3 separate regions of the Homo sapiens genome follow, and all the other regions are linked to region 1. The links come from fine-mapping of genetic effects on gene expression. A gene starts in region 1. Each other region holds a variant in brackets. All regions are shown on one strand. Distances are between the middles of the regions. Region 1 holds the start of MMP15 (matrix metallopeptidase 15). Region 2 overlaps ZNF319 (zinc finger protein 319). Region 3 has its middle 40 kb from the start of MMP15.

What was found. PIP is the estimated chance that this variant, and not a neighbour inherited with it, causes the effect.
Region 2: its variant is the best candidate, but not a certain one, in a credible set for the expression of MMP15 in sigmoid colon (GTEx, PIP 0.62).
Region 3: its variant is the best candidate, but not a certain one, in a credible set for the expression of MMP15 in skin (TwinsUK, PIP 0.87).

Annotation. Positions count from the first base shown.
Region 1 is chr16:58,023,917-58,027,916 of GRCh38, forward strand. It overlaps MMP15 (matrix metallopeptidase 15), which reads left to right and starts at 1,838. Exons shown (of 10, transcript NM_002428.4): 1 at 1,838-2,596. The coding sequence starts at 2,435. RefSeq lists enhancers at 447-1,034, 1,035-1,620, 1,853-2,402, 2,953-3,502 and a silencer at 1,847-1,986.
Region 2 is chr16:57,993,934-57,998,191 of GRCh38, forward strand. ZNF319 (zinc finger protein 319) reads right to left here. Exons shown (of 2, transcript NM_020807.3): 2 at 743-4,258. The coding sequence ends at 2,584. Among named protein-coding and RNA genes, the nearest start is that of ZNF319, 4.6 kb to the right of the region's middle. The variant C/G (reference allele first, on the strand shown) is at 2,117.
Region 3 is chr16:58,063,243-58,067,500 of GRCh38, forward strand. No RefSeq gene overlaps it. Among named protein-coding and RNA genes, the nearest start is that of MMP15, 40 kb to the left of the region's middle. The variant C/G (reference allele first, on the strand shown) is at 1,645.

The DNA of each region.
Region 1 (4,000 bases):
GATTGGACCCCAAGAGAGGAACCTCCAACAGAGAGAAAATCACCAGACTTGACCGACCCAGGCCTCAAAGAACGTTGCTCCACTCATTCCTGGGCTCCTCTCACTAACAGCTAGCCCCTTAAACCCCAACTTTTTTTTTCTTTTTTTCTGAGACAGTGTCTCGCTCTGACAGCCGGGTTGAAGGGCAGCGGCATGATCATAGCTCACTGCATCCTCAACCTCCTGGGTTCAAGTGATCCTCCCAACTCAGCCTCCCAAGTAGCTGGGCCTACAGACGTACACCACCACACCTGGCTAATTTTTGTATTCTTTGTACAGATGGGGTCTTGTCATGTTGCCCAGGCTGGTCTTGAACTCCTGGGCTAAAGCAATCCTCCCACTTCGGTCTCCCAAAGTGCTGGGATTACAGGCTTGAGCCACTTTACCTAGCCCCAAACTTTTTAAAATTGGCTAATCGGGACTAAATATCATGAAAGAGTGCGACGTGGTCGGTTAAACAAGGACAACCCCGTTGTCCGTGTCTGAAGACCACTGCACATTTCCCAAAAGCAAATTTCGAAGTGGAGAATTTAGAAACCAACTTCCCAGATGAAGGATCCCACAGAGAAGTGAGTCCGTGGAAATGATAGAATCGCCCGGTTCCTTTCTCTAAACTCCGACTTCCTTTCCCCAAGGACATCCCAGGAGGGTTCAAACGCGCCCTCTCTAAGGCACTCTGCCAGGTCTCCTGATTTCCAGTTTCCGGGAGGTGAGGCCGGCTAGGGTGCCCCGAGGGCCTGCTCTAGAGAAAACCGCCCTCAGGTGAGGACGGCTTCCATTTCCGGGTCTGAAGATAAGGAACAGCTTATCTTCGGTCTCCGCCCTCCTGCCTGCAACCCTCACCCACTGACCACGCCGGCCAGTCCGCCGCGCCAGGGCTGCCCTTGGCCTGGTCCCCGGGTCTCGGTGGACCTTCGACCCGGGCCTCCCAGCTCTGGCCTCCTGCATCCACCCCGCCCCGACCTCAAGCTGCTTCCGGAATAGAATGAAATCCAGCTCGTTAAGCTTCGCGGGGAGGTGTGTCCACCCGCCCCGCGCCGACTCCGGCCGCACTGTCGCACTTCACTCGCACCAGCCAGTGGCCAAAGTGCTTGGGCACCTATTGCGCCAGGCCAGGAGCCGGAAGTCTTACCTCGCCCTCACCCCAACTCTTTGCCCCACGTTCCCGATAAGAACATGGAGGCTCGGAGAGATTAATTTGCCCACGTGCAAGCGGCAGCTAAGGGGCGGACGCGGAACTTGAACCGTGTCCCTCCTAAACCTGCCCCTTGTCCGCCGCAACGCGCCCTCGACGCGCACAAAACCCTCACTTTGCTACTGAGGAAAGTTATTCAATGGCCAGAGACACCCTGCGGCTTTTGAAAAGAGGTTTCAGGCTGACAAATATCCATATATACATATATATTTATATTTAAGCCTAAAACGACTCTTTGATCCCTCCCCTAAGACCTCCTTCCCGTCCGCCTAGGCCTCGGTATCCCCCACCAGGTATGAGAAGGAGGAGTCTTCATTCTTCCCAGGCGGGGAGACCACGCCTTCCCTGCCTCCTCCCTCCGCGGGGGGTCGCGTTGGAGGTCACCCCCGCCCCCTAGGCGCTGGGTTGGGAGTGACGCGGGGTGGGCTGGAGAGGTTTCCTGCCGTCTGGGAAGCGTAAACGGACCGCCCACCTGTCGGGCCTCGGCCGCCCGCACCTGCTTGTGAGAAGCCTGCGGCTGGGGCACCGCCCCCGGTCCCCGCCCGGGTCCGCGCATTGGGAGCACACTGGCCCTTTAAGAGCGCGGCGGCCGCGGCGCGCGGGGAGGAGGGCTGGGAGCGCCCGGAGCCGCGCTGAACTCGCCGGGGACGTCGGGCGCCCGCTCCTTGGCTGGCTCGCTTGCTCTCTCGCTCGCTCTCTCGGGTCGGCTCCCTGCGCCTCCTCCCGGGACTGCTTGGGGACCCGGGCCCGGTCGGGCGCGGCGGCGAGCAGAATCCCCGTGCAGGAGGCGCGCGCTCCGGGCAGCGCCCGGCCCCGGGCATGGACAGAGGGAGCTGGGCGCGCAGGGAGCGCCGCGGGACCGGGCGGCCGGAGCGCTGAGCCAGACAAAGGCTCCGGAGTTGCGCTTGCTCTCGGGAGCCGGGCCCCAGGCGCTGGGCGCCGAGGCTGCGGAACCTCGCCGGGGGCAGCTCCGGTCGGCCCCCTTTCCCGCCGGCTGGTTCCGAGCTCCCGGACCTGCCCTGCCCGCTTCTCCTCGGGCTTGGGAATTTGCCGAGGCGACCTAGGCGGCTCCGGCGGGGACCGGGAGCCCGAGGTCCGCGGCGCGCCTGCCGGGCCAGGAGCCAGGGAGCGTCGCAAGTTTCCAAGGCGCGTGCGAGGATCCGGCGTGCAGTGTTCCGAGCTGGGCTGGGCGCCGAGAGCATGGGCAGCGACCCGAGCGCGCCCGGACGGCCGGGCTGGACGGGCAGCCTCCTCGGCGACCGGGAGGAGGCGGCGCGGCCGCGACTGCTGCCGCTGCTCCTGGTGCTTCTGGGCTGCCTGGGCCTTGGCGTAGCGGCCGAAGACGCGGAGGTCCATGCCGAGGTAAGACCCCCGCCCTGCCCTTTGGCTGCGGGCTGGGGGCTTGGAGGGAGAGGCGCCACGTCCGCAGGCTGGGACTTGGAGGTGGAGGGAGCGGAGACGCGCCCCCTGTTCTGGGCCGTGGCGGGGAAGCAAGCGGACTTGGCAGTCTGCCCCTCCCCAGCTCGCCCTCTGCAGCGCACCTCTTCGCAAACCCTTGAGGGCGCAGGGCCTCGCTCTCCTCCCCGCTACTCCTACAGCCCTGTTCTGGGCACTGAGCCCCCACCCCGACCCCCTTACATTCAGCCTGTGTCCCGGGAGCCGCTTCCGCCGCCCCCAGCCCTTGCCTCCCCTCCTTCCTTCCCTCCAGGGCAGCCGATTCCTCGAGAGCCCGGCTGGCGCGCAGTGGCGCTCTTTGCGAGTGGGGAGGGGGCTGCTCTCGGGGACAGCCACAGGCGGAGCAAGAGCTGGGCGGCTGGGCAACTGCGCTCCTGCCCAGGTGGCCTCCCGTCTGGGTGATACCGAGCCGCGCACGGCGGGCCAGGATGGAGGCGGGGGGATGGGTGCAAACGGCTGAGGCAGCGGACTCGGGTTGCGGGGGCGCTTTGGCGACTTTCTGCGCTTTTGCGAGGAAGCCTAGGCACGCCCGGGCGGGGTCCTAAGGACGGACCCTGCCTCCCACAGCGCTTCCTCCCAACAGCGCCCCTACGTCGAAGCCCTGGATTCGAGAGGGTGGACCCCGCGCCTCTCTTCGCTAGGAGCCCGCTTGGCGTCCCTCCCGGGGCCCCGCTCTGGATGGGTCCCGCGGGTGACCAGGCGCGACATCCCGGCGTAGAGCCGAGTCCAGCCAGCGCCCCAGCTCCATGGTGTCTCCCGAGCGAGGACACCGAAGGCGCCAGCTTTCTTGCCCCAGAGCAAGAGCAGGGTCCACTCTTCCCCGACTTCTAAGACCTGCGCCCTGCCCCAGATAGGCGGGGAGAGGACTTGGGCGGGGAGTAGGGAGAAAGAACCACCCCGGAGCCGCTTCTGAACGGTGCTCAGGCCTTGGTGCCCTTGGGCTGCCCGGGCTGCGGGCCTGAGCGCCGTTTCTATTTGCAGCTCAGCTGGTGCTCCCTCCCTGGCCCACGGCGGCTTTCCCACCTCTCCGGGCTGCCTGGGAGATTTTTCCGATGGAAGCTTGCCCTTCCCCGCCCTACTTTAATAAAAGCATAGAGGAAGGGCAGGGAATTCCTCCTGGGCTCGAGTTACACCTCCCAGCCATTTCCCCACCTGCTCTGCCCTCCCTCCCTGGCCTGGCCAGGGAGAGCTGAAGGAGGAGCCAGGCCCTGGTGGGAGGCAGGATAGGAGCCCCGCCCCGACCCAGTCTGGCCACCCTCCCCCACCCCATTCACACAGGCAGGAGGAGCTTTAGGGGGCTCCTGTTGGTGA
Region 2 (4,258 bases), 30 kb before region 1:
CCCGGGCCTGGGAGGCTGTTTTTCCCTCTCTCTCCCCTACCTCTATCCCCACCTTTGAGCAACAGACAGAGCCTGAGTTGCAGCTGGGCCACGGGGGCAGGGACGGGGTGCAGGAGGAAAGGTGTGCTGGAGGGGCTCAGGTGGGAGGCAGCTGGGCTGACCATGCAGAAGGGTCACTGTGTGACAGGGTGGGTGGTTGTGGGGTGACAGCAAGTCCTCCCCCTCCTCTGGGGCAGGGCCGGGCTGGCTGCATCTGCTGCTGCTGCAGGCAGGCCCTTGGTTTTCCACTGGGGCTGCGCAAGCTCTCATGCTCACCAGGCCCAGTGCCTGGCTTCCAGGCTTCCATGAGCTGCTGCTCTCTCACAGGTCAGCTCCCACTTCGGGGGCTGTGGTTAAAGCCAATGGAAGTGAGGAGGTCTCAGGCTCATTCCTGAAAATCCCAGGTGTCCTGGAGTTGGTACTGTCAGCATCTTCAAACATCCCCACCAGGGACTTTCTATAGGGCTCTATTTAATTCTCACAACAACCAAGCAAGGCAAGGTGAACCTCCCCATTTTACAGATGAGGCAACTGAGTCCCAAAGAGGTTCCCAAGGCCACACAGCCAGAACGTTCAAAGCTCAGGATTCAAACCCAGCCCTATGCCCCAGTCTCCAAGCCGCCACTCAGGCCTGTGCCCCTCTCTGCCTCTCCATGTCCATCGTTCCCCTGTGGAAGAAGGAGCAGAACAAGCAGTGCAGTGGTCTGTGACGGTCAATGTCTTTACTTCTAAAGCATACATTGGACTCACTATATATTAACATCAAAAGTGGCTACCTAAAATGGAGTCATTCTTTTTAAAAATCCAAATCCTCACATTTTTATATAAGATCCAAAATGACATGAAATTAAACTCTACAATGTTATGAATAGTATAACAAACTGCTTTCAGAAAGCAAAATGAAAGGAAAAGAATTAGCAGTTGGGACGGTTGTAGGCCTGGGTTCCATGTCTTTTGAGGCATTGTGACAGAGAGCCAGCACCGAGGGGAAGGACCAGCCCCTCCCTGTGGCCACAGGAAGGAACTCAGTCAGACAGAGGAGGTGGGCGTGGCTGGTCAGCCTTCTTACGGTGACAGAGAAGCATGGTGGCATCTCCCTGCCCCTCAGGGCCCTTGGTGTGCCCACTGATTAGTCTTCTTTCAAGACCAGGGAGGGGTGGGGCTGGAAGAGGGCAGGGGATAGAGCAGGGTTCAAAATGATTATTTTAATAATAAAGGTCCTTCTGGGCTTCCTAAGGAGGGCCGTAGCCACCCAGCGATGTTGGTCAACTCCATCCACCAGGTCCCCCACAGGCTTCCTTAACCCACTTGCTCTTTCTGCTCCCTATGACTGGGATACCCTCTGCTTCATGAGCCTCATGGGCAGCCAGAGACCTAGGGGGACTCTAGGAGGACCCAAAGGACACTCTGGCCTTTGAAGTAGCTGGATGTTGTCCAGAACATCTTGGCTGTACCAGACCCCTGGGGTCCAGGCCAGCAGCCACATTGATGTAGGGAGGGTACTGGGGGGGTCCCCACCCTGGCCTAGTCTTGGCTCTGAAGCAGGACTGGGTTGAGCTGACTGGGGCTGTGCCCCAAGCCCCTGACGCTTTGGTTCACACAATTCAGGGGAGGACACTTGTTTGCATCTGCTGGGGAGATCCTAGGCCTGGTCCTGCTTCCTCCCAGCCTCAGGTGGGCTGACAATCCCTGCCTTTCACACCAGCAGTTCTGTCTGCTGAGAGCACGGCACATTCCCCACCACACCTAGGAACTGCACTACAAAGGTGGGAGGGGCGCTTCCAAAACCGGAGGATTTGCCCTTAGCAGAGACAGGCTGCTTTTCCTCCTGTCCCCAAGGATGGCACTGTCCCTTGGCTGAGGGTGTCACACGAACTTCTCAGCTTCCCCCTTCCCCCTGGGCCCACTGGTCTCCAGGCAGACCCAGCCCCAAGACCCACCCTGCACATCTCCCCTGCCAGAAACCTGGGGACACGTCGCCCCTGGCTAGAGCAGACGGAGAGGGCTGTGACTCACCCTCTGCCCTCCCAGTCCCCAGGCCTACGTCTTAAAGCTGGCCTTCTCCCCCACACGGCAA[C/G]TGATGCCTTACACCTAGCCCACCTCTGGGGCCCCAGCCCCACCATGAGCCTCCGCTTTCCTAACCTATGTGGCTGCTAGCTTGAAAGATATGGGAAGGTTGGGCTGGCATCACACCCTCCTTAGGGCAGGGAGAAGCCACTTGACTTCCAGCCTGGCTCCAGTGCCCCGGAAATAAGGGGGGTGCTGATGGCTCTCAAGAAAGTGAATCTTGTCATGGGAAAGAGGTTTGTGGAATCAGGATGGGCCACAGCAATCTGGCCGCCCGCACTGCCCGCTGGTGCCAGGAGTACGAGCGGCACACCCTCTCCCTGCCTCATACCCCTGCGTCCTCACTCCCGAGGTCTCAGAACACCGAGCTGGGTGGGGCCCTTGGTGCAAGGCAGCTGTGAGGAGCTAGGCTGCGCGAGGCCTGCTGGGCCCACGGCGCCGACTCAGGTCAGGCTGGTAGGGGCCACAGCCGCAGAGTCAGGGCAGGCAGGCGGCTACCTGGTAGGCGCCCTCCGCTGCCGCGGCGGCGGCACTGTGCTGCGCGCTGTGCTCCTGCAACAAGGCCACGTCTAGGAAGCGCTCCCCGCACCATACACACTTGAACTGCTGCTCGCGGGCGTGCACGCCCTGGTGCTTGTTGAGATGCTCCCGCTGCTTGAAGGCCTTGTCGCAGTTGGGGCACTTGTAGGGCTTCTCGCCTGTGTGTACCCGCCGGTGCCGCTGCAGGTCTGACGCGTACTTGAAGCGTTTCTCGCAGTCTGGGCACTTGAGTGGCTTCTCGCGGGCCGGATCGCAGCGGTGCTGCACGAACTCGGAAGAGGAGAAGAAGCGGCGTTCGCAAAGCGTGCAGCGCAGGGGCTTCTCTGCCGCCGCACAGTGGGCCAGCTGGTGCTTCTGCAGGGCCGACGCGCGCTTGTAGGCCTTGTTGCACACAGGGCACTTGAAGGGCCGCTCGGCCGCGCCGGGCAGGCACTTGTGCCGCAGCAGCTCGGCAGATTGGTCAAAGCCTTTCTGGCACACGGGGCACTTGAAGAGAGTCTCGAGGGTGTGCACGTGCTGGTGGTAGAGCAGGTGGCTGGGCTGCCCAAAGCCCTTCTCACATAGGCCGCATTTGAAGGGCTCCTCGGTCTTGTGTGTGCGCCGGTGGCGCATCAGTGCGTACTGCTGCTTGAAGCCCATGGGGCACAGGTCGCACTTGAAGGGCCGCTCGGCGCTGTGTGTGCGCTCATGCTGCCGCAGGTCCGAGGGCCGCTTGAAGGCCTTCTGGCACTCGCCGCAGCGGAAGGGCCGCTCCCCACTTGGCGTGCACGGGTGCTGCAGCAGCTCCGACGACTCCTTGAAATGCAACTCGCACACGTTGCAGCGGAACAGGTGGTGCTCGCCCGAGTGCGCGTACATGTGGCGCACCAGGTGAGAGCGGTGCTTGAAGGTCTTCTCGCAGACTGCGCACTTGTAGGGCCGCTCGGAGCTGTGCGTGCGCTTGTGGTGCACCAGGTGCGACGACTGGCTGAAGCTTTTGTCACACAGCGTGCACTTGTAGGGCTTCTCACCGGTGTGGATCCGCTCATGCCGAGAGAGCTCCGACAGGTGCTTGAAGGGCTTTTGGCAGATGGGGCAGCTGTAGGGCTTGTCGGCCTGTTCAGCAGGGGTGACAGTGGAAGGCGCGGGTGCTGCGGGAAGCGACGGGGCGGCTGTGGTGGCTGGCTCCGCTGCCTCAGCTGGCTTGTAGGTCTTTTCACAGATGGAACACTTCACCAGGCCACTGTGGGAGCTGTGGTGCTGTGCCAGTGAGGTGAGTAGTGAGAAGCCCATCTTGCAGACCCCACAGACGAAGGGCTTCTGCTCAGCCTGCACGCACTGGTGCTCCAGCAGGTCAGTGGCCTGGTGGAAGATCTTGAGACACTGTGTGCACTGGAATGAGCGGTCATGGCCCGCCAGACACTGGTGCTCATGCGGACTGGACAGGTGCGCCAGGTCGTGACCACACACGCCACATTTGGGGCCTGGCTCTCCTGCTGCCTGCAGGGGTGCGTGTTGTGGGGGCTGCAGGCCGGGGTCTGGCTGCAGGAGGATGCCATAGACGGCACAGCCCAGGGGGTTCTCCGCCGTGCCCGGAGGCAGCGTGTGCTCTGCCAGGGCTGGCGGTGGCTCT
Region 3 (4,258 bases), 39 kb after region 1:
AGTGAATTGTGTAACTTGACAGGAATCTAAGTAATACACCTGACATTGGTGTGTTGTCAGTTTCAATACATGCTTCCAGATTGCCCGTCCAGGTCACAATACAGCTTGCCTGACCAGGTCATCTGGTGGCCCTGTGGTGAGATGGGGACATGGGGCTTCCTCCATGGGGCTGGGACTCTGGCTGCTAAGAAGCAAACTCCAGCTTTAAGCAGGTGTCCAGGCCAATCAACAGTCCTCACACTGGGGCACCAGGCACCTTCCCCTGTCCTGCTCAGAGGCAGGATAGAAACCTGACAAGGGTGTTTTCACCAACCTGAGAGTTTCGGCCCCTCTCTGGGGACTGTTTGCGTTTCGGGTCACAGTGTTGGCTGCCCCCACCCCCTTCTTTCCTCTGCCAAATTGACATTCCCCAGGCTGTCAGGCCTCCAGGAAGCGGGCAGTTCCTGCCCTGTGGTGCCTACAGGGAATCTCCTCTTTCTATTCCAAGCACTTCCACATCCTCGTGACATTTCATCCCCTTCACACAGTCCAGCAAATGAGAGGTGCTGCCCTCATCCCACAGACAGAGGCTGAGGCCCACCAAGGGGCGACAGCTTGCCCAAGGTCACAGAGCAAATTAGGGGCTGAAGAAACACAAAGAAAACTGACCGCCAGCCCAGTAGCCACTCCCTGTTATTCTCCTCCCTCCCCTAACTCAGCCACCGGACAGGGATCAACCTCTCTCCAGTTCCTTCATGCATTCAGCAAATACTGTGTTGGCATTTACTGAGTACCAGCTGCAGAGGCTGCAAACTATGGCCCTCTGACCAAAGTGGGCCCACTGTCTGCTTTTATTTTTTTATTTTTATTTTTAATTAATTTATTTTATCAATTTTTTTTTTGAGACGGATTCTCACTCTGTCACCCAGGCTGGAGTGCAGTGGCGTGATCTCGGCTCACTGCAACCTCTGCCTCCCGGGTCAAGCGATTCTCCTGTCTCAGCCTCCCGAATAGCTGGGAATACGGGCACGCGCCACCACGCCCAGCTAATTTTTGTATTTTTAGTAAAGACGGGGTTTCACCATGTTGGCCAGGCTGGTCTCGATCTCTTGACCTGGTGATCCGCCCACCTCGGCCTCCCAAAGTGCTGGGATTACAGGCGTGAGTCACCACAACCGGTCGTCTGCTTTTATAAAGTTTTATTGAAGCACAATCACTCCCACCCATTTGTGTATTGTCTATAGCAGCTTTCTGCTACAAGGGCAGAGCTGAGTTGCAGCAGAGACCATCTGGCTCCCAAGCCTGAAAATTTATTATCTGTCTCTTTGCAGAAAAATTTGCCCATGAACCACATTATGATTTTCTAGGCCATTTTGTCTTCACGAGCCCTTTTTGTGAAAAAAAAAAAATTACAAATATATGTAATATATGTTATATATATAATTGTATAATTTTTAAATTATAAATATCTACAGCCAGGCGCGGTGGCTCACGCCTGTAATCCCAGCACTTTGGGAGGCCGAGGCGGGCAGATCACGAGGTCAGGAGATCGAGACCATCCTGGCTAACATGGTGAAACCCCGTGTCTACTAAAAATACAAAAAAAAAATTTAGCCGGGTGTGGTGGTGAGCACCTTGTAGTCCCAGCTACCCGAAAGGCTGAGG[C/G]AGGAGAATCACTTGAACCTGGGAGATGGAGGTTGCAGTGAGCCAAGATCATGCCACTGCACTCTAGCCTGGGTGACAGAGCAAGACTCTGTCTCAAATTAAAAAAAAAAAAAAAAAAAAAAAAAAAAAAATATATATATATATATATATATATACATATTTACAATTTGTATAATTTTTGTATGCATATACAAACAAAATTATATGTTATAACTGTGTTGATATCAAAACAAATACAACCCAGGCCAGGCACAGTGGCTCACATCTGTAATCCCAGCACTTTGGGAAGCCAAGGCAGGTGGATCATTTGAGGTCAGGAGTTCGAGACCAGCTTGGCCAACATGGTGAAACTTTGTCTCTACTAAAAATACAAAAATTCTCTGGACATGGTGGTGCGTTCCTGTAATCCCAGCTACCAGGGGGCTGAACCAGGATAATCGCTTGAAACTGGGAGGTGAAGGTTGTAGTGAGCCAAGATCGTGCCACTGCACTCCAGCCTGGGTGACAGAACAAGACACTCTGTCTCAAAAAAAAAAAAAAAAAAAAAAAATTACAGGTTGGATTGGATTCTTTCTTGTTTTGTTTTGTTTTTTTTGAGACAGAGTCTCATTCTATCACCAAGCTGGAGTGCAGTGGCGCAATCTTGGTTCACTCACTGCAACCTCCGCCTTCTGGGTTCAAGCGATTCTCCTGCCTCAGCCTCCTGAGTAACTGGGACTACAGGCGTGCGCCACCATGCCCAGCTAATTTTTTTATTTTTAGTAGAGACGGGGTTTCACCATGTTGGCCAGGATGGTCTTGATTGCTTGACCTCGTAATCCGCCTGCCTCGGCCTCCCAAAGTGCTGGGATTACAGGCATGTGCCACTGTGCCCGGCTGGATTTTTTTTTTTTAGCTGACTAAAAAAACTTACAGGCTGGGCACAGTGGTGGCTCACGCCTATAATCCCCGCACTTTGGGAGGCCGAGGTGGACAGATCACTTGGGGTCAGGGACTCGAGACCAGCTTGGCCAACATGGTGAAACCCTGTCTCTACTAAAAATACAAAAATTAGCCAGGCATGGTAATGTGTGCCTATAATTCCAGCTACTTGGCAGGAGAATCGCTTGAGCCAGGGAGGCGGAGTTTCCAGTGAACCGAGATCATACCATTGCACTCCAGCCTGGGTGATAAAGCGAGACTCAGTCTCCAAAAAAAAAAAAAAAATTACAACATGTTTGTGGGTTCCTAGAAATATTGTAGGCCCTAGGCACTGGGCCTGCTGGGCCTCATGGAGAAGTGAGCCCTGAGTTTGTCACACAGGGGTCCTCCCATTGCTGAGAATAGAGCCCCCAAAGGAGACACCCACTGTGGTTACCCCCTCTCCTTAGTCCTTATCCCAATAGTAGGGGGCAGGGGAAAATTTTGACAGCTTTGAGGGGAACCATTAAGGGCTTAAACAAAATGATTGCATACAATTCTTGGGATGAAAATTTTAATTCTTTTTCAAATGCCTACATTTCATAATTAAAAAAAAAAAAAACTTTTGAGACAGGGTCTCCCTGTGTAACCCAGGCTAGGGTGCAGCAGCATGATCACAGCTCACTGCGGTCTTGAAGTCCTGGGCTCAGTCGATCCTCCCACCTCAGCCTCCCAGGAAGCTGGGACTACAGGCACATGCCACCATGCCTGGCTAATTTTTAAAAATTTTTTTGTAGAGATGAGGGCTCACTTTCTTGCCCAGGCTGGTCTCAAACTCCTGGGCTCAAGCGATCCTCCTGCCTTGACCTCCCAAAGTGCTGAGATTAAGGCGTAAGCCACCATGTCCAGTCTTACATTTTAAATTAGTTTTTTTTTGGAATAAATAATAAATGTATGTGGGTAAAAACATGTTTTGAAAGCCCCAAATTATCTGCAAAGCTGGGTAACTCTCCCTCCCACCACAGCAACCCCTCCCCTTCCCATCACTGACTACAATTCCTTCCAAATAGATTGTGTAATACAAAAAGAGATGCATACTTCTTAAGTCTATAGTCTTATGCAGAAATTCACCTTGATTTTGTTAAATTGCTCTTTAGTATTCCATTCAATCAAATAACTCAATTAGGATATTTGGGCATTTCCAATTGTTTTCTATTACAACAATGGAACAACAAATACTTCTGTACAGACCAGCTATTCCTGAATATTAGGCATGCTTTTTTTTCCGCTTCCAAAATAATTACTCAGAAAAGATAGAGTCCCTGTATGTACGAGTTCTCATAAAAGGTCTTGCATTACCTGATGTTTTCTGATCATTTTAAACAAGGAAGTACTATTTGGGGAAGACACAATAGCCTGAAATGACCTCAGAGAATTTTAATTTGGGATGTTTATGGCAGTCATCCAAAAGAATTAGTTGGGGTGAAAAAGAGGCAAATTTAATGCAGATTTAGTAATTTTTCCTGGGGATATGACTTCACAATTCCAAGTGTTAAATAACACTGTAAACAAGTCCTTTCAAGATTACTTTGAAAGTGGTACTTTAGGCCAGGCATAGTGTCTCACGCCTGTCAATCCCAGCACTTTGGGAGGCCAAGCCGGGTGGATCACTTCAGGCCAGGAGTTCGAGACCAGCTTGACCAACATGGTGAAA